3 linked regions of the Homo sapiens genome follow. The protein of the gene in region 2 binds, or shares a complex with, the protein of the main gene of each other region. Each region holds a gene or a part of one and is shown on either strand. Other genes may lie near its edges.

Region 1 (7,547 bases), about 22 Mb from region 2:
TGATTGGCTCCTATTTTACTTGGATTATCTCTTTTAATCATTGCAACAACTCTGACATTTAGGTGCTATTATTACATACACATTCAACAAAGGGGTAAATTGAAGTTAGGGAGCTAGCAAGCATGGAGTTCTGCTTGTTTGCTTGCTTTTTGAGACAGGGTCTCACTCTGTCACCCAGGCTGGAGTGCAGTGGTGCAATCTTAACTTCCCAGGCTTAATCAACCTCCCCACCTCTACCTCCCAAGTAGCTAGGACTACAGGCACGTGTCACCACGCCCGGCTAATTTTTTTATTTTTTTTGCAGCGGGGGGTTTCGTCATGCTGCCCAGGTTGGTCTCAAACTCCTGGGTTCAAGCAATCTGCCCACCTCAGCCTCCCAAAGTGCTGGGATTACAGGCATGAGCCACCGTGCTGGGCCAAGTATGGAGTTTTGACCCCAGTTGGTCTAACTGTTCAAGTGCCATTATAAGCAAGATTATGAGCTGCTTGTATATGCTGTATTTTGTCAATACATGACCTGACACATACTAGATGGTTAATACATGTGGGTAGTTAAGTGGTCATATAGTATGATCTCAACCATGTAGGAAAAAGATACATAGGGAAAAGTCAATACATCAAAATGTTAAAAAGTGATTAATTATGAATGGTAATGATACGGACTTTTTTGGGTAATGTACATTTAAAATTTTCATCTTTACGCTTTTATGTATCTGCCAAACTTTTGACAATGTGTGTGTAATGTTTTTATTTATTTATTTTGAGATAGAGTCTCACCCTGTCACCCAGGCTGGAGTGCAGTGGCGTGATCTTGGCTCACTGCAACCTCTGCCTCCCGGGTTCAAGCAATTCTCCTGTCTCAGCCTCCCAAGTAGCTGGGACTATAGGCATGTGCCACCACGCCTGGCTAATTTTTGTATTTTTAGTAGAGATGGGGTTTCACCATGTTGGCCAGGCTGGTTTTGAACTCCTGACCTCAGGTGATCCACCTGCCTCGGCTTCCCAAAGTGCTGGGATTACAAGCGTGACACAGCACACCTGGCCGACAATATGTGTGTAATGTTTTTAGTTATTTCCATTACTTTTTAAAAATCCCATATAACTCCTGCCCCCACACATACACAGCCTCCCTCATTATCAACATCCCCCACCAGGATGGTATACCCAAAGTCCGTATTTCCATTACTCTCTTTTTCTTTTTTTTGAGAACGGAGTCTCACTCTGTCGCCCAGGCTGGTGTGCAGTGGCGCGATCTCAGCTCACTGCAAGCTCCGCCTCCCGGGTTCACGCCATTCTCCTGCCTCAGCCTCCCGAGTAGCTGAGACTACAGGCGCCCGCCTTTTTGTGTTTTTAGTAGAGACAGGGTTTCACCGTGTTAGCCAGGATGGTCTTGATCTCCTGGCCTCATGATCTGCCCGCCTCGGCCTCCCAAAGTGCTGGGATTACAGGCGTGAGCCACTGCACCCGGCCTCCATTACTCTTTAAATCACACAAAATGTCATTTTTACCGAATGTAAGTGGTTACTGATACGTTCTTTGTGGGCTGAAAATATTTATTTCTTCTCTTTCCCTTCTCCCAATGATTCCATTCCCCTCACAACTGGGATCCCCCCCATTCTAATCTGCTTCTCCATTCTCTCAGTCCTGTCTTTCTCTCTCTCTCCTGCTCCCTTCTGCGATCCTCCATCAGACTTTTTCTTCTGGGTCTTCCTCCCTTCTTCGCTTCTGTCTCCTTGTCTCCCTCTTCTTTTTGAAAAGATTGACATTCAAACAGAAAGGTCAATCAAATGTTACCTCCTACTGGTAGGTTTCAGGTATATTCTACCTGCCATTGGAATCCTGAGGATGGTGCTCAAGTCAGGGGGTGGGGGCAATGGGAGGGCAAGACTTCTAAGGAGAATGGAGACCCCTTTAGATGTGAGGAGGGCATTTCAGCCTGAGGAAAGCAGCGGAACAAAGATCTGAGGAGTTTTTCAGGGAACGGGAAATGGGCAGAGGAGCGCTTACCTCATTGGATCTGGGGATTGCTGTCTCCTGGTGCTGGCACTCGGTTATAAAGGATGCCAACCTTAGTTGATTTGAGCTCCTGGATTGAATTAGTCCTGGTTGCATAATTGACTTTGATATGTGGACTTTGGGTTCGAATTAGGTTTAATAAGATTTAACTGCTTCAAAGGGCTTTATAAGAATTCATTTTATCCTTCAAATCTGATTTCAAATGCTACCTACTTTATGACAACTTCTCTAAGTTTGATGCTCTTCTTCTAGTGCACTTACTATGCCATAGTAGGTACATACTTTATTCAAGCAATTACCCCCATTGTATTTTACCTTATTCTGTAGGAAATGTTTCCTTTAGTGCCTCTCTTCAGGAATCTTGAGGGACAGGCAGGTATCTTATTCCTATTTGTATCCTAGGCCTAGCACAGAGCAGGAACACACTCAATTGAGCCAGCAGGTTCTCAATGATTTTTAAAATTACATTAATAATTAACATTAAGTAAGCACTGTGGCAAGCACTGTATCTACATTGTTTCATTCACCAGTCATTTTAGAAGAAAAGTACTTTTATTACCCCCATTTTACAATAACCGAGAGAAAGCAAAATTAATTTGATCTAAGGTCAAATATGATCTAAGACTAACTAGTGAGGGGCAGAACTTTTTCTCCAGGCTTTGGGCTTCAGATCTGGGCTCTTCACCACCACAGATGAACAAGTGGATAAATGAGGACTTCTTTTCATTCCGTGGCTGAAGAAGTGACATGGAAGAGTCTACCATTCATTTTACAGATACAATTATGTATCTGTAATACATAATACATAATTATGTATCTGTAATACATAAAATTACAGTAAGTCCTAACTCACTGATGTTTCTAACTTCTGAATCATCTTTTTCTTCTTCTTTCTTTCTTGCAATCCTAAAACCGTCAGAGAAACTGTTTTGAACTCATATTGAAGTGTAACCCATCCAAGCACTGGGTGTTTTATGGGAAAGAGAATAAACCTTTTGTTTGGTTCTTACTTCTTACCACCCATTCATTTGTAACTATACAAATATCAAGCACCTACTGTGTGCTAGGAACCTTTTTTTAGGCACTAGAGAGACAGAAGTAAACAACAAAAAAATAGTGAGACCTTTACATACACTAGTTCTCCTGCTCGTCACAATAACTATATGAGGTAATGATGACAACAATAATAGTTAACTCTTAACAGTGCTTATCTGTGCGGGGCACTGGGCTACCTGCTTAATTTGTATTAACTCATTACAATAAGCTTGTGGGGTAAGGGATATGTTTTCCCCATTTTACAGATGAGTAAAGACACAGAGCAGGAAGTGATTTGCTCAAGCTTGGAACCCAGGCAGTGTGGCTCTAATTCCCAGTCTATTAACTACAGGGCAATATTTTGTTTCTTAAATTTATATCTTCATATCACAACTTTTAGGTTGAGGAGTCTTATCCCCATCCAGATCATCTGACTCCCAAATCCAGAGGTTTGCACCTGCACCCCAGCGGCCTCGCGAAATAAATGAGAATGTCTTGGAATTTTTGCCAATACTTTCTCTTCCAAAGAACTCAAACTGATTTCCACGTAATTCTCACTGATTTGTGAAATGAACCTTCCTGGACTGTAAATTTCCCCGCAAAGAGAGGGCCAGGGCCCCGGGTCGTTTTATACTGGCCGGGGCACCCAGCAGATGGCGCTATGTTAGTGGCCACCAGCTGGCTGCCCCGTCCCCCGAGCTCACCGCCTCCGCCGAAAGCTTCCCGGCCCTCCCTCGCTCACTTCTCTCTCCCCCTCCCAACCGAGCCCGGGCCCACGTGACCTCAAGGCGGCCAATGGGTGAGCAGAGAGGGCGAGCTGGTCCCTGTGGCCGCCATTAAAGCGAAGGGAAAACCCGTGAATTCGGATTAAAGGGGGAAAAACACCGCCCGCTGGGCCCACAAAATGGGGGAGACTACGGCGTCCAGCCGGTGAGGCCACAGGAGGGCAAACTTTAGGCCGGCTTGGCCCAGGAACGACACGAAGACAGAGCCAGAGAATGGTCTGAGCCCGCAGACGCCGCCACCACCTCCGCCGCTGAGGAGACTCTGGGCTTAAGGACATCGCCGCTGCCGCGCCGGGGGCCTGGGCTTCTCTCCCGGTTCTCGCCCTTCCCGCTCCTGTGCGGGCGCCTCTCCGCCCGGGAGAACCGTCCTGGGCTTGGGCTCTGCCGTCTCGGACTTGATTTTGATTATTTATTGTGTAATTTATTATTTTTCTTGTGGTAGGGGCACACATCCCCTCCGTCCCCCAGAGAGGGACGAGCGTCTGCGGGATCCGCAGTCCGGCCCGCCAGGCGAGCGCGGCGCGGCCCTCCCGCCTCCGGCCCTCGGCCCCGGGCGGCTGGGTGCCGGCCGGGCGGCGGGGGCTGCTCGCGGCGGCGGCGGCGGCGGCGGCGGCGGGGGGGTGGGTGGGGAGGGCGGGCGCCCGGCGGCCTCCTCTTCCACCGCCCCCCCAACCACTACCCCCCCCCCGGCCCTCCCCGGTGTCTGTGTTTCTCTCTCTGGTCGGAGGCGGCGGTAATGGCGGATGGTGGGTTGTGGCGCCGGCGGCGGCTGCTGTGAGGGACGATGAGTGCCTCCTTCGTGCCGAACGGGGCCAGCCTGGAAGATTGTCACTGTAACCTCTTCTGCCTGGTGAGTGCCGGGGCCGGCGGGCGCCGAGGGAGGGGGGCCGCGAGGTGCGCCCTTGGGCCGTGGGGGAGGGGGCCGGGTCTGGTCCAGATGCCCGAGTTCCCGGGCGAGGCCCAGCCGGAGCCGGCGCCCTGCGAAGCTCCGCGGCCAGCCCCGGGAGGCGGCGTTCGCTCTCCTACGGTCCCGGGCTCTGTTTAGGGGAGTGTTGGCATTTTTTCTCGTCTTGTTTCGGACTCTCCTTCTCACCGTAGTCTCGTCCTCAACTTGAGCTCCTTATCTGGCAGGACAGTAACCTTTCCCTCTTGTCTTGCTTAACTGTTGCTTTTCTCCTTATTGGCCCTGTATCCCTGCTTCACACTTTACATTATTGCCCCTGCTCCCCACCGCCTTTATGTCTTACCCTTTTAATTTGGTTTCCCCATGTAAACAGGACCCCAGAACTTAAGCCCTAGAAACCTGTCTTGGTTTTACATTTTTTTTGTATGAGTCAAACTAACGCCAGGTTAGTTTCTTTCTTGGGTGACTTAAGATCTCTCTGTAAAAGCCAGTAGGTGCCATTTCATATGTTTTCTTTTTAAACTTTGAAAACAGTTTGCCATTTTTGACAATTTCTAGCCATCTTGCTTTTATTAGAACATGATGTTTTTGTGAGAGTGAAGGGGGCTAGTGGACGAGGTGCTGTGGTTTTGCACTGTTTCTATATTTATTGTGTTTTGGTTGCTTTTTCAGAATGTTTTGAGCAGGCTGCTCCCTTGTTTGATTGAAATGGAAAGTCGAGAGAAGCGGGATGTAGGGATGATCATTGTGTAGGTTAGCCCAGGTCTGGTAACATCCAACAGTTAAGGCTTTCAGAAGTACCAACTGTTGCAAATAACTTGTCCTGTATGGGACAGTAGCTGAGCTTCATCAATGACTTTAAGTTTGGGTGACTTTACTTTTTCATTTTCTCCTTTGTGCTATGAGAAATATTAAGAGTATATGATAGGTAAGTGAGTTAAGTGGGAGGAGCACAACTAGTTGGCAAGTGTAAACTGCCAGTCATGTATCAGCAGTTTCATTTTTGGCACCTTATGCTTTGCTCCTTTAAGTTAGATTAAATTACTGAATTCCTCTTGTCGAATTTCTTAACGCCCATGCTAAATTGAGATCTTTAATACTCTATCCTCGTCTACAGTATGTTTTTCTTTTCAATGTCCATTAATCAGCATCTCTTCACATGTAATAAGACATACACCAGGTTTTATATTTCTATCTTATCCAACTCAGTCTATTTTTGGTACTTTTAGGATCAGTTCTTTGAAGATAGACTAGCACAAATCTGACAGTTCTTTGTGAGTAGCTATTTGACTTTTCCGACAGGGGTGTGTGTGAAGAATTAACATAGATTTTTTCAGAACTTGTTCAGATGTCTTTTCATTAGAGACGTTACTTCTGTAAATGTGGAATAAAAACCCATGATAGGGTCTTTAATAATTGATTTTCAGTTAAAAGTTTGACACCAGTGAACAAATGTGACCAGTTAGGACAGAGAAAAATGTACTCTGTTTGCATATTGAAGTGTGTGTCTATATTTAACATCATTCAGTTTCTTCTGTTTCTACTTGGAGTACATATTTGCTTGCTATTCAGTGACATGGTGGTGGTAATTTTTAACTGTATTCTTCTCCCTAAAATTCTTGGTTGTTGAATTATAAAGTCTTTTTTTGTTCTAATTTGCAGTCAATATCTCAAGCATACATTGAAAAATTGTAATGTCTTAATGAAATAAGAGACATCATATTGAGTACTTTTGACTTTGAGTGAATATGCAGTAATAAAACTTAATGCTTTCTTTCCTTCAGGCTGACTTGACAGGAATTAAGTGGAAAAAATATGTATGGCAAGGCCCAACTTCTGCCCCTATTCTGTTTCCTGTGACAGAAGAAGACCCCATTTTGAGCAGTTTTAGTCGCTGCCTTAAGGCAGATGTACTTGGTGTTTGGCGGCGAGATCAAAGACCTGGAAGAAGAGAATTGTGGATATTTTGGTGGGGTGAAGACCCCAGTTTTGCTGACCTTATTCACCATGACTTATCAGGTGAAAGAAACTTTCCATTTCTAACTAATGATATAGCAACATTGTATACTTCTCCCAGAATGTCATATGTATTACAAATTAAGTTTGTTTTTGTGGGAGACTTAGGAGGCCAGATAAAAATTCAGCTTCATTGTTTTATTTCACCATGATTATTTTATTTTACTTAAATTATCCATGTTGTTATAGCTGGGTTTTTAAGGCGTGAATGACTTTCTCCTTCCACCACCTCTCTTCTTAATTTCTCACAGGTAGTTAGGGCCCGAAGAAGGCATGTTACATTAATCTAAAAAAATGGAATCAGGAAACAGAGTTCCTAACAAAGTCGTGTAATAGTTTAGAAGCCAGATGTAACTTTTGAGTCACTTCAGCCACTGCTGAAGTTGAGTCTTTTGCATTGAATAGGCAGATGATTCTAAAAGTACTGGAAATGTAACTATCCGTGTGTGTGTGTGTGTGTGTGTGTGTGGTGTGTGTGTGTGTGTGTGTGTTTTAAGGCATGTATTTTGTTATTGTCATTTGTGCTATTTGATTAACTTATGAAGGCATATGTTAATTTAGTTATTTTTGGAAAGTGACTCATATACTGTTCTGTCAAACATAATAAGAGAAAAGTGCCAACTTGTTTAGCTTTTATGGGACATGGGATCATAATCTAAAAGGTTACACAAACAATTTTATTGTGAGCAAATCAATGTGATTACTTCCTTATTTTCTTGACTTTTAGGACCAAATGCTACTTTAGAAAGAGAAACTATAGCTTTTCATATAATTACTGAAGCTTTAAATTG
Region 2 (7,916 bases):
ACCCCAGCATGGCTGTCCAGTAAGGCCCGCAGAGGGGGCCCCAGATGTTGCTCCGCCCCTCAGGCTGAATCCCAGTCTCTGGCCAGAGCTCCCCAAGGAGGCAACTCTGAGGCGAGGCATTCCGGGGAGGCCACCTGGCTCACGGCAGCCTCTCAGGGAAGCCTGGCAGACCAGGCCAGGTGTGGGGAGCCAGGGGACAGGACCCATGTCGGCCCACAGCCACTCCAGCCCAAGTACCTTAATCAGGTTGTTGCAGAACCAGTAGACGCCGCCCATGTGCAGCAGGGTGTCAAAGATGTGGATGGAGCGGCTGTCCACCCAGCCCTTCTCCAGCACCTTGGCAAAAATGTCCGTCAGCACCTCTTTGATGGGCCGCTTGGGGGGCAGCAGGTTCCAGTAGGGCATTGTGTCCACCCCGGTGGAGGGAAACTTGATCTGCGTGGCTGTCTGCTGCAGCACGTCGGCACACATGCGCTCCAGGATCGAGTTCATGATCACCACCCTGGGGGAGGGCCGAGAGAACCTGAGGCTCAGGTGCCACTGTAGGGTGGGGAGGGAGAGGAGGGAACACCCATGCCAGACTTTCCCTTGGACTTAGGTTACGGAAATCTCCCTGAGGCATTAACCCAGTTTTGCGCTGGGGGACGGTATACCCCGGGGTGACCTGGCCCCTGCTCTGCTCCTGGCAGGTCTCTCACCTGCAGGACACAAAGCCTATAAATAGGGACTGGGGAGGGACTTTCCTCCCCCTGGCCATTCCAGCCAGATATTCACATTTTCTTTTATTCTCCAACTTCCCCCATCCCCCAGGCCTGGGCCCTGCCAACCTGCCACATAAATAAACACAATCACTTCCCCCTAGGCTGAGTGCTTGGGGGTCCCCGCCCAGCCCTGGCCTCCTCCCAAAGTAAACTGTTCCTTCCAGGAGAGGCCCAAGGGCTGCCCCACAGGACTCTTCCCGGCCCCTGGTAGCTGGGCAGATAGAAGTGTATATCCAGGAATTTTCTCATGGAAAGAGGCTTCGGAAGTGAATACAGACCCGGGCCGAGTGCTGACTGTTCCTGGAATGCAGGGTGGCTCTGGGAAAGTTGCTATGACCTTTAGAGCCACTTTTCCCACCTGCACAATGGAGCCACAGACTTCTCACTACCCCTTACCCAGATAGGATTTAGGGTGCTTAGAATGGGTTACACCAGAGCAAAAGCTCCCTACTTGGTAGGGCGGGGGGGAAGGTGGTGGAGAAATGAGAGAAGAAAGGAAAAAAGGAGGAGGCAAGGGGAAAACGAGATGTGCTTTTCCAGACCGTCCAAACCTCATTCAGCTCAATGCTTCCCCTTCTCCCTATTAAGACATCCTCAGGCCCGGTGCGGTGGCTCATGCCTATAATCCCAGCACTTCAGGAGGCTGAGGCGGGAAGATCACCTGAAATCAGGAGTTCGAGACCAGCCTGGCCAACATGGTGAAACCCCATCTCTACCAAAAATACAAAAATTAGCCGGGTGTGGTGGCACATGCCTGTAATCCCGGCTACTCGGGAGGCTGAGGCAGGAGAATCTCTTGAACCCAGGAGGCGGAGATTGCAGTGAGCCTAGATAGTGCCACAGCACTCCAGCCTGGGTGACAGAGCGAAACGCCGTCTCAAAAATAAGTACATAAATAAATAAATAAAGACATCCTCAACGTTGCCATAAAGACATGGCAACACCCAAAACGTATTAGCTGGTAAACACCCATGTTCACAGCAGCACTATTCACTATAGCCCAAAGGTGGAAGCAACTGAAGTGTCCACTGACAGAGGAGGGATCAAGATGTGGTATAGCCACACAATAGAGGTTTCTTTTGTTTTTGTTTTGTTTTTTGAGACAGAGTCTCACTCTTTCACCCAGGCTGGAGTGCAGTGGCGTGATCTCGGCTCACTGCAACCTCCGCTTCCTGGGTTCAAGCAATTCTCCTGTCTCAGCCTCCCAAGTAGCTGGGATTGCAGGCGCCTGCCACCACTCCCTGCTCATTTTTATATTTTTAGTAAGGCCAAGGTTTCACCATGTTGGTCAGGCTGGCCTTAAACTCCTGACCTCAAGTGAGCCACTCACCTCAGCCTCCCAAAGTGCTAGGATTGCAGGCGTGAGCCACCACGCCCGGCCCACAACAGAGTATTATTCAGCCTTAAAAAGGAAGGAATTCCTGTCACGTGCTACTACATGGATGAGCTTTGAGGACACCATGCTGAGTGAAGTCAGTGAGTCACGAAAAGGCAAGGACTGTATGATTCCAGTTAAATGAGGCATCTAAAAAGTAGTCAAATTCAGCAGGGCACGGTGGGTCACGCCTGTAATCCCAGCACTTTGGGAGACCACGGTGAGAGGATCACTCAAGGCCAGGAGTTCAAGACCTGGCAATATAGTGAGACCCTGTCTCTACAAAGACTAGAAAAATTAGCCGGCTGTGGGCCTGCAGTCCCAGCTACTCGGGAGGCTGAGGCGAGAGGATCACTTGAGCCCAGGAATTTGAGGTTGCAGTGAGACTCACTCTGATCTGGGCAAGGGTAAGACCTTGTCTCAACAACAACAACAACAAAAAGTATAAAGTAGTCAAATTCCTAGACACACAAAGTAAAATGGTAGTTACCAGGAGCTGGAGGGAGGGGAAAATAGGAAGCTGTTGTTCAGTGGGTATGGAGTTTCAGAGATGCAAGAAAGTTCTGGAGACCTGTTACACAACAGTGTGAATATACTTAACACTACTGAACAGTACACTTAAACATGGCTAAGATGGCAAATCTTATGTGTTTTTTACAATTAAAAAAAGCAAACAACTTATTGGTTGGGTGAATGAACTCAACGTAACTGGTCACCAGGGAAGTCCTCCAAGCCCCTGAAGAGCCAGGGCAGGAAACTGTCCTAAGAGGTAACTGAGGGTGGGGCATGGCCTGTAAAATCTACAGACAGGTTCCTAGCTCCTAGACAGTCACACAGCTTTGTTCTTTTGGGAGCTAGTTGTCTAGAACTTGAGTCTCTGCGGGCAGACCCTGTTTAGGGTCTGCATTTCTGACAACACAGCAGGTGCTGGCATATAAACGCTTCTGCCACAGAGACACAGTACATGTTTGCTGAGTCAGATGAGTGAATGCATGAATAGGAAAGTGAGTGAGTGATCAAGTAGCGTGTTTGCGAAGGTCAGAAAAGAGAGGGGTGCTTGTTATTGGATGTGCTGACTTCTCACAACACACTTGAAGGGTCTGAGAAGGGAAGGCAGGTTACCGACCTCTCATTGTAGAACTGCAGGGTGTTCTCACTAAACAGTGGCCCTGCCAGCTGGCGGATCATCTGCAGCGACTTCTCACGCTCATCCAGCCCCAGCATCCGGACGTGGGCCACAAGCCAAGCCACAGCACACACCGCCAGACTGCATACCTTCCCTTTGATGTTATCAGTGATTTTCTAGGGGAGACGGAAAGGTGATGGGCTACCATCTATCTCCCTTTCTTGAGCCAACATCACCTTCTCAGCCTCTGCGGGCAGCTAAGTGCAGCGGGTGGAGTCCCGGGCCACATTCCACACCTCTCTCCACAAGTTTGATCTTCCCAGAGCTACCTGGGCCAGAGGGAGTAGCTAAGACAACGATTACACAAAATATCAATATCAAAACATGAGCTCCTGGATTAAAGGTCTTCTTGCCCTTACGAAATATAACAAGTCATCACTGGCTGGCTCTGTGTCTCAGGGGAGCAAACGCTGCTGGGAAGGCGGGGCTACCTGGATGGACTCGAAGGCCAGGACCCCATTCTCCCAGGCATTGAGGATTTCCAAGATGGCGGCTGAGATGCTGAGACAGGCCTCATGCCACTTCATCTGCCTGCGGGTGTGCAGAGAAGTCAGCACAGGGGAGCAAGGAACGGGCTCAGGGAGCGGGTCTTGACCCTGCCCCCACCGCCACCCTTGGAGTGGGCGCCCGGGCCACTGACACTAGCTTCATCTCCGAGGAGTTGTTGAGCAGGGCCACCAGGGACTCCACTTTGGTGGAGTCGGGGCGGAAGCAGGGGTGGTCAGGGTTCAGGATCTTGCCCTCCTCAGGCATGCAGGTCTGCATCCAGGTCTCGAAGAAGGGCACCTCAGCTCCTGTGCGCGACTCGGACAGAATCACCTGGGAAAGGGGAAGGGGGGCACCAGCCGAGTGGGGAGGGCGCGGCGCCTGCCAGCGCTGGACCTGGGGCTGCACTGTTTCCCGCCAGGCTGCTGCTCCAGCCCAGCCCAAAGACTGGGGACGAACTGGTCTAAGGGAGCCAGACGGGGGCAATGCTGCCACCTAGTGGTCAATGTGAACATAGGGCTGAAGGTGCCTCTACGGACTCCAGCCCGGGTGGGCACCTGGTTTCTGAGGCCCACAGAACTAACTGGCTGAGAGGCTGCGGGGGCGCAGGCAGTGAGGTGGGGAGAGTTCCGGGTTACCTCCTTCCCTTGAGCCCCCGTCCCGGTCGCTCCCCTCTCTCACCTCTGAACCATAGGTCTGGGCCACATGGCACAGCATGAGGAAGGAGATGTCAAACAGCAGGGCCCGGACGGAGGCCGGTTTGGCTGTGGAAGGACGGGAAGGCTGAGCTCCCAGACGAGGGCAGGGGGGAGCCCGTGTCTGGGTTGACAGGGATCGGGATTTGCCTCTAGGAAGGTCAGGGACCAAGTGGCTCCTTCAAAGCTCTGAGGCTCAGAATCCTTTTCTTGAGTCTCAACTGGAACATCATCCCTTCCTTGAGACCAAAGACCCCCAGCACCCTCTCCTGGCATACCTAACCAAGTCGTAAAGGGATGAGGGGGGGAAGGAGACACAGGGATGGTCTGGGAAGAATCCTTTTCCAGCATTATCCACTTTCAAGCTCTGTGGAAGCTTCCATTGGTCATGGCTCTGAGGAGGGAGCACAGCCTCCCCCTGTTGAGCTGGGGAGCCCTCCTCCCTCCCACACTCTCCCGCCACACCCCTCCTCAGGGCCCACTGGGCCTGCGGATGCACAGGGCTGACTTACTGCTTTCTTCGCTGCCATAGGTTGTGAATTCATTCAAACTGAAAGGAATGGAGACAGGCTGCATTGACCAGGGCATGAGCTGAGCAGTAGCTGGGCGCTGGGGCTACACATGTTCAGAGAGCGATAGCTAGAGTCTGAGTTACTGGTTAAACTTAAAATGAGACACATTGCTATAGAAAAAAGGTTTTTGTGGTTTTTGTTTTTTGTTTTTTTTTTGTTTTTTTTGAGAAAGAGTCTCGCTCTGTCACCCAGGCTGGAGTGCAGTGGCACAATCTCAGCTCACTGCAACCTCCGCCTCTGTTCAAGCAATTCTTCTGCCTCAGTCTCCCAAGTAGCTGGGATTACAGGTGCCCGCCACCACACCCGGCTAATTTTTTGTATTTTTAGTAGAGACAGGGTTTCACCAAGTTGGCCAGGCCGGTCTTGAACTCCTGACCTCAGGTGATCCGCCCACCTTGGCCTCCCTAAGTGCTAGGATTACAGGCGTGAGCCACCGCACCCGGCCAGAAGGATTTTTATTGTTAGAAGATTTCCAAGGCCTAGAGAATGGCTCACTGAATGGAACCATGTTCTATATATGTCAAATTCCAGGGCAATCAAAAAAGGCAACAGAATTTGAGAGCCCCTTATTAATAACTGGGCATACTTGGAATTCCTCCATGCCCAATGTTCAACACCTCAACCCTTACCCTCATCTCTTTACCAAACATGTCCACTCCATCCTCAGCTGAAGAGAAAGGAACACTTAGGTCGTGAGAACAGGCCCTTCCTCCAAGATCTCCAGCCAGGATGCTCTGCCTAGGCCCGTGGGTCTCTGGATGAGACCCAGACCCAGGCACCTGACTCCTACCCTGCTACCTCCTCCCAACGCGCAGCCTCCCTGCACGCCCTGGGGTCAGGGGCTTGGCCTTCCTCACTTGATGAATTTCCGGGCGAAGGATTTCAGCTTTCCAGTGGCGGCGGCGGCAGCCAGCAGCAAGTCCAGACTCTTCCCGGACAGCATGTGGCCCAGGACTCCCAGCAGTCCCTCCGGTGACTTAGAGTGGTCTGCATCCATCGTCTGGGGACAGGACAGGAAATCAAGTCCTGAAGAACACTGAAGACCCCCCACCCAAGATACAGCCTAGCCACATTTTCTCTCTTCACAACCTGGAATGTAATCTACATCTTTCTGACTTCAATCTGGAAAATCATTCCTAAAACCCACCCCTGCTCTCCGATCCATCCCTCTCATCTACACTGGCATGCAGGTGGTAAGGTTGGAGTGGGCAAGGTCACGGCTAGGATCTTCTCTGTCCTTTCCTTTTTTAGACAGAGTCTCGCTCTATCGCTGAGGCTGGAGTGCAGTGGTGCGATCTTGGCTCACTGCAACCTCTGCCCCCCAGGGTTCAGCGATTCTCCTGCCTCAGCCTCCCAAGTAACTGGGATTACAGGCATGCACCACCACACCCAGTGAATTTTGTGTTTTTAGTAGAGACTGGGTTTCACCACGCTGGCCAAGCTGGTCTCAAACTCCTGACCTCAAGGGATCTTCCCACCTCAGCCTCCCAAAATGCTGGGATTACAGGCGTGAGCCACCGCACCCACGTCTCTGTTGTTTCCATGTGAGATGGCCTAAGTGAAAGCGCCTACTGCAGTGCCTGGTGTACAAATGAAGCTCCCACGGGTTAGCATTCAGTGGTAGCTGCCCTTGCCTCCCCTTTCACTACCTCCAAAGCAACTATGTATAAAAGCTAAAGGAGACAGAGGTCTGTGGCCTCTGTTTATTTATCTGCAAGCAGATGGAGCACTGGAAAGAAGAAAGAGAAGACTGTGGTGGCCAGGGAAGGGCACACTCACCTTGAGGATGTTTGTGACAGTGGGCTCCGCCCGGAGGATCAGCTGGATGTTGGGCTGGATGTTGGCATTCTCTCCCGATTTCTGCTGGGGTGCGTGCTCTCGGTCCGCTTTGCTGTGGACATCACCAGTTGGCCAAGGAAGGGAAGAGGAATGAAGAGAAATTCTTGACACGTTCCCTCGTTCAAGCCCGGAAGGAAATGCGCAGAGGAGGTGGGAAGCATGTAAGAACCTCCGAGGTTGGGGTGAAGTTTATGGAAGCATAGTCAATGTTGCAATCACTGATTTAGCATTAGTCTTTTTTTTTGAGACAGGTCTCACTCTGTTGCCCAGGCTGGAGTACAGTGGCACGATCTCGGCTCACTGCAGCCTCTGCCTCCAGAGTAGCTGGGCGCTCACCACCACGCCTGGCTACTTTTTTGTATTTTTAGTAGAGACGGGGTTTCACCATGTTCTACTGGTCTCAAACTCCTGACCTCAGGTGATCCACCCACCTTGGCTTCCCAAAGTCCTGGGATTACAGGTGAGCCAGCACACCTGGCAATTTATCATTAGTCTTTTTTTTTTTTGAGACAGAGTCTCGCTCTGTCACCCAGGCTGGAATGCAGTGGCGCGATCTCAGCTCAGTACAACCTCTGCTTTCCGGGTTCAAGTGATTCTCCTGCCTCAGCCTCCTGAGTAGCTGGAATTACAGGTGCATACCATCGCGCCTGATTAATTTTTGTATTTTTAGTAGAGATGGGGTTTCACCACGTTGGCCAGGCTGGTCTCAAACTCCTGACCTCGTGATCCACCCGCCTTGGCCTCCCAAATGCTGGGATTACAGGTGTGAGCCACCGCAGCCGGCCTATCATTAGTCTTAAATGCTCTGAAAGCACATTTAAGATTAAAGGAAGATTCAGGATTTTTATTTATTTATTTATTTTTTTTTTGAGACAAGGTCTCACTCTATCGCCCAGGCTGGGGTGCAGTGGCATGATTTCGCCTCACCACAATCTCCGCCTCCTGGGTTCAAGCAATTCTCGTGCCTCAGCCTCCAGAGTAGCTGAGATTACAGGCACACAC
Region 3 (7,605 bases), on a different chromosome or scaffold from region 2:
TTTCATGTTAAGGAAGCATCCTATTTCTGTTTTAGTAAGAGCTTTAGTCAAGGATAAATGTTGAATTGTATTAGTTTTTTAATACCTTTACTGCTTGATTTCTTAATATTGACTATATTTCTATAATAAAATCCAATGTCATGTTTTATACTTTCAATGTAATGTTAGACTGCATTTGGTAATAATTCATTTACAATGTTTGCATTAATATTCAAAAGTGAGACTGTTTTTAGTGTTCCCTTTGCTAGATTTTTCTGTGTTATCATGGCTTCATAAAGAGAATTAGAAAGCTTTTCTTCTTTCTGTATGAAATGGAACAATTTCAAAAGGAGATTCTCTTGAAAGATGGAAAGTATTTACCCATGAAATAACACATAGCTCTTGGGTAATACTCTTAACTTGCTTTGGCTTTCAAATTTAAAACCCTGGAGATAACCCAAAAGTACCCCTGGGTTTACTTTTCTCATTCCTAATTTTGTATTTTTGTATCATTCCTTTTTCCCCTGATTTAACTAGCAGTAGTTTGGTCTACTGTTTTTATTTACTCTAAGAATTAGCTTTTATAATTTTTTTCCTTTTAATATATTAGCATCGTTATCTATTTTAAGTCTTTCTGTTTCTTTAGGTTTATTTCATGTTTCCTTCTTAATATTATTAAATAGAATATTTCTATTATCTCTCAATTATTCAGGATATTGATTTTCTAATACATTCAAGCTTTGGTTACATTCCATATATGGTACTATTATGATGTTATTTTCTAGATAGTAAGTAACTGTATTTTCAGTTTCCTGTGGATACCAATAAAGTATCCACAGTTAGTTTTGTAGTTTTTATTTTTGTTACTTGTTCATTAATGCATTCAATTAACCAGCAAATACTTAGTGCCCTTCTAGTTCATTTTGGTCACAGACTGTGTTTTGTTCTACCTCAACTACACTGTGGTTTGCTAATTAATTTCATCCCCACAGAGTCATTTTATGTTTTTAAAAAGATAAATTTCACAAACATTTTATGAGTTTTCCTCACAGAACTCTGTATGGAGAATAAACTAAAAAACTTTATAAATACTGCATTTCATCAAATTTAAGATTACATCTAGGATTCATCATTATTTCATATGCTATGAAAGCAACTGCCATGCTGATTTCAAAGATGTTAAAGTGTGAAAACGTGCATCTTAGAAGCATGAAATATAGCATATTTAATATCAATTGCCCTCTTTCACCAAATTCACCTAAGACAATGGCCTTTCATAATCTTTTCGTTTGTTTTTCCAGAATTGTCTTGTCTTCCACACTCGTTACCTTTTCCAGATAAGAAACTCCATGACTGCTCAAGGGATTTGAGCAAGGCAAAGTGGTCCCTTCTTTTAGGACTATTTGAATTGGGAGAAAAGAATAGTTTCAAAGAAGTACACTTAACTTTATAATAATTTTATATTTGAAAAGTGAAAACATATTTTTAGAATGCTATGAATAAATGAAAGCATAATGAGAACACTATTGAAAATAAGGCAGGATCTTTTTTTTTTAAGTTGAAAAACTGAAAAATCAACAGTCAGCTACTTGTCAATTCTCTCAGCTTCTTTCAGAGTTTATCAGAATATCTCTTCTCCACTACCTAAACTTTTTTTTTCAGGAGCTCTAACTCCAATACCTAAACTTTCGATACTTTAATTTTGCCCAAGCAATATTTCAGTGTGTGAAAACAATGCAACATATATACACACACATATATATATACATACACACACACACATATATATACACACACACACATATGATCAGTGGTAAAGCTTCTTTAACATGTCATCTCCACAGAATCACTTTATAGCAAGAGGAAAACCTGCTTTTCCTTAAATAGGTTACTGAGTTCATTGTTTCTTTTTTTCTCTTTGCAAAGGGCTAAAAAATGAACATCAGGAACAGATCCTATTCACAGAATCGAAATTTAAATTACTTACTAATGCTTTCTTAGCATAAAAAATTATACCAAGATACCTTGTCAAATTCTGTTCATCTTTCAACTATACAGTGGAAAGCCTACTCAAATGTTCAATTTACCCCATAACGCACCTTCCTGCCTGCTTAAACAAATGTATTTAGGGATAAATGTTTTTAATATTATTCTAGCTCTCACATGGTCACTGACAGAAACAAGAACTTATTCATGAAAAAGGTTAAAGAAACAGGTAAACAAAGTCACTGGAAAAATAGGCCTTTAAAACAAAATATAAAGCACAGGCTAATGAAATGGATAAATTTAGAGGGCACCTGCCCTATACCTTATCAATATAAAACTCCATCTAGACATAAAGTACGCGCAAGAAGCGGTTAGTAGGCAGAAACAAGCCAGACTCTCTCCTCTCCTCATAATATTAAATCCACTCAAGATATACAGTGAATGACAAAAGACCACGACGCCGATCACCCGAAGAAACCCCAGGTAAAAGCACGCCACAACTGTCCTGAACAGGTAGCCTCACAGTCTTGAGCTGAGTCACACTTCCCGTACCTGTGCCCACTCTATCCGACCCCCCGCGGCCTAGCTAAACCAAGAATCCGAAATTAAACTCCGAAACGTTCCTTCCCGGGAGACGAAACTCTCTCCCACCCCTCCCCCTCACAGATCCTTCCCTCCCCGAAACTGGGGCTGGGGGCGGGGAGGGGAGTCGCCTCAGAAAAGCGCATCTTGATTCTGACCGCTGCGGTCTCCCGTGAGGACCCCGGCACTCGGAACTGAGCTGGGATCCAGGCCCAGGGGAGTCACAGGCCCCGTCCTCACAGCTCCCCCAAAAACCGGCCCCAGGTGAGAAGACGGAAGATCGCTTACTAGTGGGAGCTCTGCCAAAAGTTCCCTGCCATGGAACACAGCTTGCCCTGATAAAAAAGCACCAGCCGGCGGAGCGGCCCGCGGAGCGACCATAGACCCAGCCCGTCCGGTAACCGCGCTCCTCGATCAAATCAGCTCGGCTCGACTCCGCTCCGCGGCGGCGACGGCGAAAGGAAGAGGATGGCCCCCTAGTCTCCTTCACGCCGGCCGACAACACTCAACTGTGCAAACCCGTTCCTATCGACAAAAGTTCCGGCCCGCGGTAGCGGAGGGAGCCGGAGGGGAGGTGCTGACCCTTGGAGGTGCTGAGATTGAAGAGAACTAGTGTTCACGAGAGCTCGCGGCGGTTGGAAGGCTCTCGCGAGAGCGTCTTGAGAATTCTGGCCGGGGGCCCAAGCCGCTCGGTCTCCTGTCTTCAGCACGGGAGTTGCTGAGTGGGTCTAACCTAGGCGAAGTGGCTCAGATACGGGGTTCTGTTATTACCTCTTCCAGGACTTCAAAAACAGAACAATGTGGCATTGTAATAAAGTACAAGGTTTTGTGACTTATTTTTCCTGTGATTGGAAAGAGAAATAAATGAAGATGACTTTGTTCTCAGGGATCAAGTGTTCCTTTTTTTTTTTTACTTTATTTATTTATTTATTTTGAGACGGAGTCTTGCTCTGTCTCCAGGCTGGAGTGCAGTGGCACGATCCCGGCTCACTGCAAGCTCCGCCTCCAGGAGTTCAAGCGATTCTCCTGCCTCAGCCTCCCGAGTAGCTGGGACTGCAGGCGCGCACCACCATGCCCAGCTAATTTTTGTATTTTTAGTAGAGATAGGGTTTCACCATGTTGGCCAGGATAGTCTCAAACTCCTGACCTCGTGATCCGCCCTCCTCAACCTCCCAAAGTGCTGGGATTACAGGCGTAAGCCACCGCACCCTGCCTGTTTTTTACTTTTGAGACGGAGTCTGGGTCTGTCACCCAGGATGGAATGCAGTGGCACAATCTCGGCTCACAGCAACCTCTGCCTTTCCAGTTCAAATGATTCTGCTGCCTCAGCCTCCCAGGTAGCTGGGATTACAGGGATTACAGGCGCGTGCCACCACGTCCATCTAATCTTTGTATTTTTAGTGGAGAGGGGATTTCGCTAGGCTGGTCTGGAACTCCTAACCTCAGGTGATCCGTCAGCCTCAGCCTCCCAAAATGCTGGGATTAACAGGCGTGGGCTACCAGGCCCGGCCTGGATCAGGCGGTTTTTTTTTTTTTTTTTTTTTGAGACGGAGTCTTGCTCTGTCGCCCAGGTTGGAGTGCAGTGGCGCTATCTAGGCTCATTGCAACCTCTGCCTCCCAGGTTCAAGCGATTCTCCTGCCTCAGCCTCCCAAGTAGCTGGGACTACAGGCTCACACCACCACGCCCAGCTAATTTTTGTATTTTTAGTAGAGACAGGGTTTCACCATGTTGGCCAGGATGGTCTCCATTTCCTGACCTCGTGATCCGCCCACCTCGGCCTCCCAAAGTGCTGGGATTACAGGCGTGAGCAACCGCGCCCGGCCGCGATCTTTTTTTTTTTTTTTTTTGAGACGGAGTCTCGCTCTGTCGCCCAGGCTGGAGTGCAGTGGCGAGATCTCGGCCGCGATCTTAATGGAGTTATTTTGGAGTGATAAAGTGCAAACTTACAGAGCAGCGGAATCAACAGTTTTGCAGAACATCTAAAAATATTCATGCATATATGTATGCACATGTATGTACATGTATGCACCTAATAGAAACATACTGCAAAAAAAGCCATAATTTAATTTTACAAGACGAAATATTTTGTATTTTCCATTTCATTTTCATTGTAGCAATGCATTTATTGTAAAACTTATAATTATTTTTCTAAATAATTGGACACTCCAGAAACTTGTTTATAGACAGTCAGCATCTGAGGCAACTTAAGACAGTATTTTTCACATTGTAGGTGGAGACCAATTAGGGTGTGGTAAAATTAAGTATAATCATTTTCCTAAATAGAACAGAAAATACTAGGTAAATCAGAAATAGCAAGGATATTATATTTAAATTTGGTTCAGTTATATATGTGTGTATATACATACACAAACACACATATACACACACAGTCAAGATGTGAAATGCATTTGTTTGTATGTGAGAATTAGTCTGCATCAGGTGTGGTGGCTCACGCCTGTAATCCCAGCACTTTGGGATGCCGAAATGGGCGGATCACTTGAGGTCAGGAGTTTGAGACCAGCCTAGCCAACATGGTGAAACCCTGTCTCTACTAAAAATACAAAAATTAGCGGAGTGTGGTGGCGTGCACCCGTAGTCCCAGCTACTCGGGAGGCTGCAGCACAAGAATCGCTTGAACCCAGGAGGCAGAGGTTGCGGTGGGCAGAGATTGTGCCACTGCACTCCAGCCTGGACAACAGAGTGAGACTCCAAATCCAAAAAGAAAAAGAAAAAAGAATGAATTAGTCTGGATAAGCTACACTAGGTGAAATTGTGGTAACACCTCCCCACCCCCACCCCTAATCAGCATAGCTTAACATCAAAGTATTTTACATGTCATACGTCACTCCCATAAAGTCCCATAAAGTCGGCTTGCTCTCCTTGGTGGTTGTCTTCCAGATTTTCAAGAATGTAATATTTATATATCCTTCAATTACTCCATCTTGATGGTCTTTACTTCTAGGTTTAAAATCTTTCTAGAGAGAGCACAGAGGACTCATACTAACTCTTACCCAGGGTTAAGAGCCTTGAAACAGAAACAACCCAATCACTTTCTCTCATGGGCCATTGACCAGAATAGACACATGCCTCCAATTTTTAACTGTGAAGAAAGCTGAGGCCAGGCACGGTGGCTCACGCCTGTACTCCCAGCACTTTGGGAGGCCAAGACAGGCAGATCACGAGGTCAGGAGATCAGACCATCATGGCCAGCATGGTGAAACCCCGTCTCCACTAAAATACAAAAATTAGCCGGGCATGGTGGCGCATGCGTGTGATCCTAGCTACTTGGGAGGCTCAGGCAGGAGAATCGCTTGAACCTGGGAGGCGGAGGTTGCAGTGAGCCAAGATCGCGCCACTGCACTCCAGCCTGGGTGTCGGAGTGAGACTCTGTCTCAAAAAAAAAAAAAAAAGAAAGAAAGCTGAGAAATGTAAACGAGTGTGTAGTATACTTCATGAACACTACTGTCTGTTACACTACAGATCACAATAGAAAATATTGGCAGGGCGCGGTGGCTCAGGCCTGTAATCCCAGCACTTTGGGAGGCTGAGGTGGGCGGATCACGAGGTCAAGAGCTCGAGACCATCCTGGCTAACACGGTGAAACCCCGTCTCCACTAAAAACACAAAAAATTAGCCGGGCGTGGTGGCAGGCGCCTGTAGTCCCAGCTACTCGGGAGGCTGAGGCAGGAGAATGGCATGAACCCAGGAGGCGGAGCTTGCAGTGAGCTGAGATCGAGCCACTGCACTCCAGCCTGGGCGACAGAGTGAGACTCCATCTCAAAAAAAAAAAAAATAAATAAAAATATATATATATTTATCTTTATATTTATATTTAAAAGGCACTACCTTAAGAAACTCCAGGCCATGGGCTAGTTCACAGATTCAGGATTTCTTCAACTCTCTCAGGGTTTGTTTTGTTTTTGTGAAACTGGCATCATCCAGAAGATAAGGATACTGCAACGAATTAGTATTACTAATGTTTTATTCTAAGCGATCCTATTATACTTTGTTGCTATTACTGGACTAGCACTTTTTTTTTTTTTTTTTTTTTTTGAGGCAGAGTCTTGCTCTGTCACCCAGGTTGGAGTGCAATGGCTTCAGGCGATTCTCCTGCCTTAGCCTCCCAAGTAGCTGGGATTACAGGTGCCTGCCACCATGCCCAGATAATTTTTTTTTTTTTTTTTTTTTTTTGGATTTTTAGTAGAGATGGGGTTTCACCATGTTGGTCAGGCTGGTCACAAACTCCTGACCTCAGTTAATCCACCCACCTCAGCCTCCCAAAGTGCTGGGATTATAGGCATGAGCCACCGTGCCCCGCAATTTTGTTTTATACCTAATTCTGCACTCTTCTTCCTACAAAACAGTGAGATCCTTCATCTTTGTATAAATCTCTTATAGAATTTGGGGGATGTGCTTTGATATAACATTACGGATACAAAATTATGTTGAAAAGTGAGTACTACATTTAGAATGCAAAAAGAGCCACAACAACTTACTAGAGCTGTGGAAATTCAGGTCCTTTCCTTCTGTGAACTCTTTTAGGCAATTTACCACAAGTGCTACATAGAACCTCTTCCTGTTTGTGACCTGGTTTCTGCTTCCACCAAATGCCCAGCAGCTCCCAGTGCTCATGGGGGCTGTGCAAGTGACAGGCCTGGAGCTTAGGCTTCCTTAGTTTCAGAGTAAATTGCTTTTGAGGTCATTCTATAAATGTAGGTTGAATTAAATTGACTTGAACCAAAAGCTAACTTCATTTAAGGATATCTCTAGTGGAATAGATAAATTTACAAAAGCTGTTAAAATACATAGATATCCCAGCTTACCTGGATGCAAAAAGATCATGAGCTATCTAGCAGATTTGCCTTTTTTCGCTGATGATTTTTTAAACTTTTCTTTATAATTTTAGGAGTATTGTTTTTCAGACCTCACTACCCACTAATTTAAACTTGATGAAATAAATTAATGTTGTCCCTTCCAATTTTCAACTTACCTTGTGCTTTTCAAATGGGATGAGTTCAATAAATTCTTTTTAAAAAATTTTTTATTTTTCATTTTTG

What was found. Proteins that work in one complex are often made in the same cells at the same time.
Region 1: MED24 (region 2) and MED13 share a complex: the UniProt entries of both Homo sapiens proteins name them as parts of the mediator complex.
Region 3: MED24 (region 2) and CCNC share a complex: the UniProt entries of both Homo sapiens proteins name them as parts of the mediator complex.

The regions. Positions count from the first base shown.
Region 1 is NC_000017.11:62,062,279-62,069,825, reverse strand, and holds the start of MED13 (mediator of RNA polymerase II transcription subunit 13), read left to right. Parts: upstream 1-4,547; 5' UTR 4,548-4,620; coding exon 4,621-4,686; intron 4,687-6,524; coding exon 6,525-6,759; intron 6,760-7,547. UniProt on the Homo sapiens protein: Component of the Mediator complex, a coactivator involved in the regulated transcription of nearly all RNA polymerase II-dependent genes.
Region 2 is NC_000017.11:40,022,894-40,030,809, forward strand, and holds part of MED24 (mediator of RNA polymerase II transcription subunit 24), read right to left. Parts: intron 6,967-7,916; coding exon 6,855-6,966; intron 6,076-6,854; coding exon 5,933-6,075; intron 5,054-5,932; coding exon 5,016-5,053; intron 4,753-5,015; exon of another isoform or gene 4,649-4,752; intron 4,573-4,648; coding exon 4,490-4,572; intron 4,142-4,489; coding exon 3,963-4,141; intron 3,854-3,962; coding exon 3,754-3,853; intron 3,517-3,753; exon of another isoform or gene 3,439-3,516; coding exon 3,263-3,438; intron 503-3,262; coding exon 238-502; intron 1-237. UniProt on the Homo sapiens protein: Component of the Mediator complex, a coactivator involved in the regulated transcription of nearly all RNA polymerase II-dependent genes.
Region 3 is NC_000006.12:99,565,661-99,573,265, forward strand, and holds the start of CCNC (cyclin-C), read right to left. Parts: upstream 3,001-7,605; 5' UTR 2,868-3,000; coding exon 2,836-2,867; exon of another isoform or gene 1,906-2,835; intron 1,379-1,905; exon of another isoform or gene 1,258-1,378; coding exon of another isoform or gene 1,238-1,257; intron 1-1,237. UniProt on the Homo sapiens protein: Component of the Mediator complex, a coactivator involved in regulated gene transcription of nearly all RNA polymerase II-dependent genes.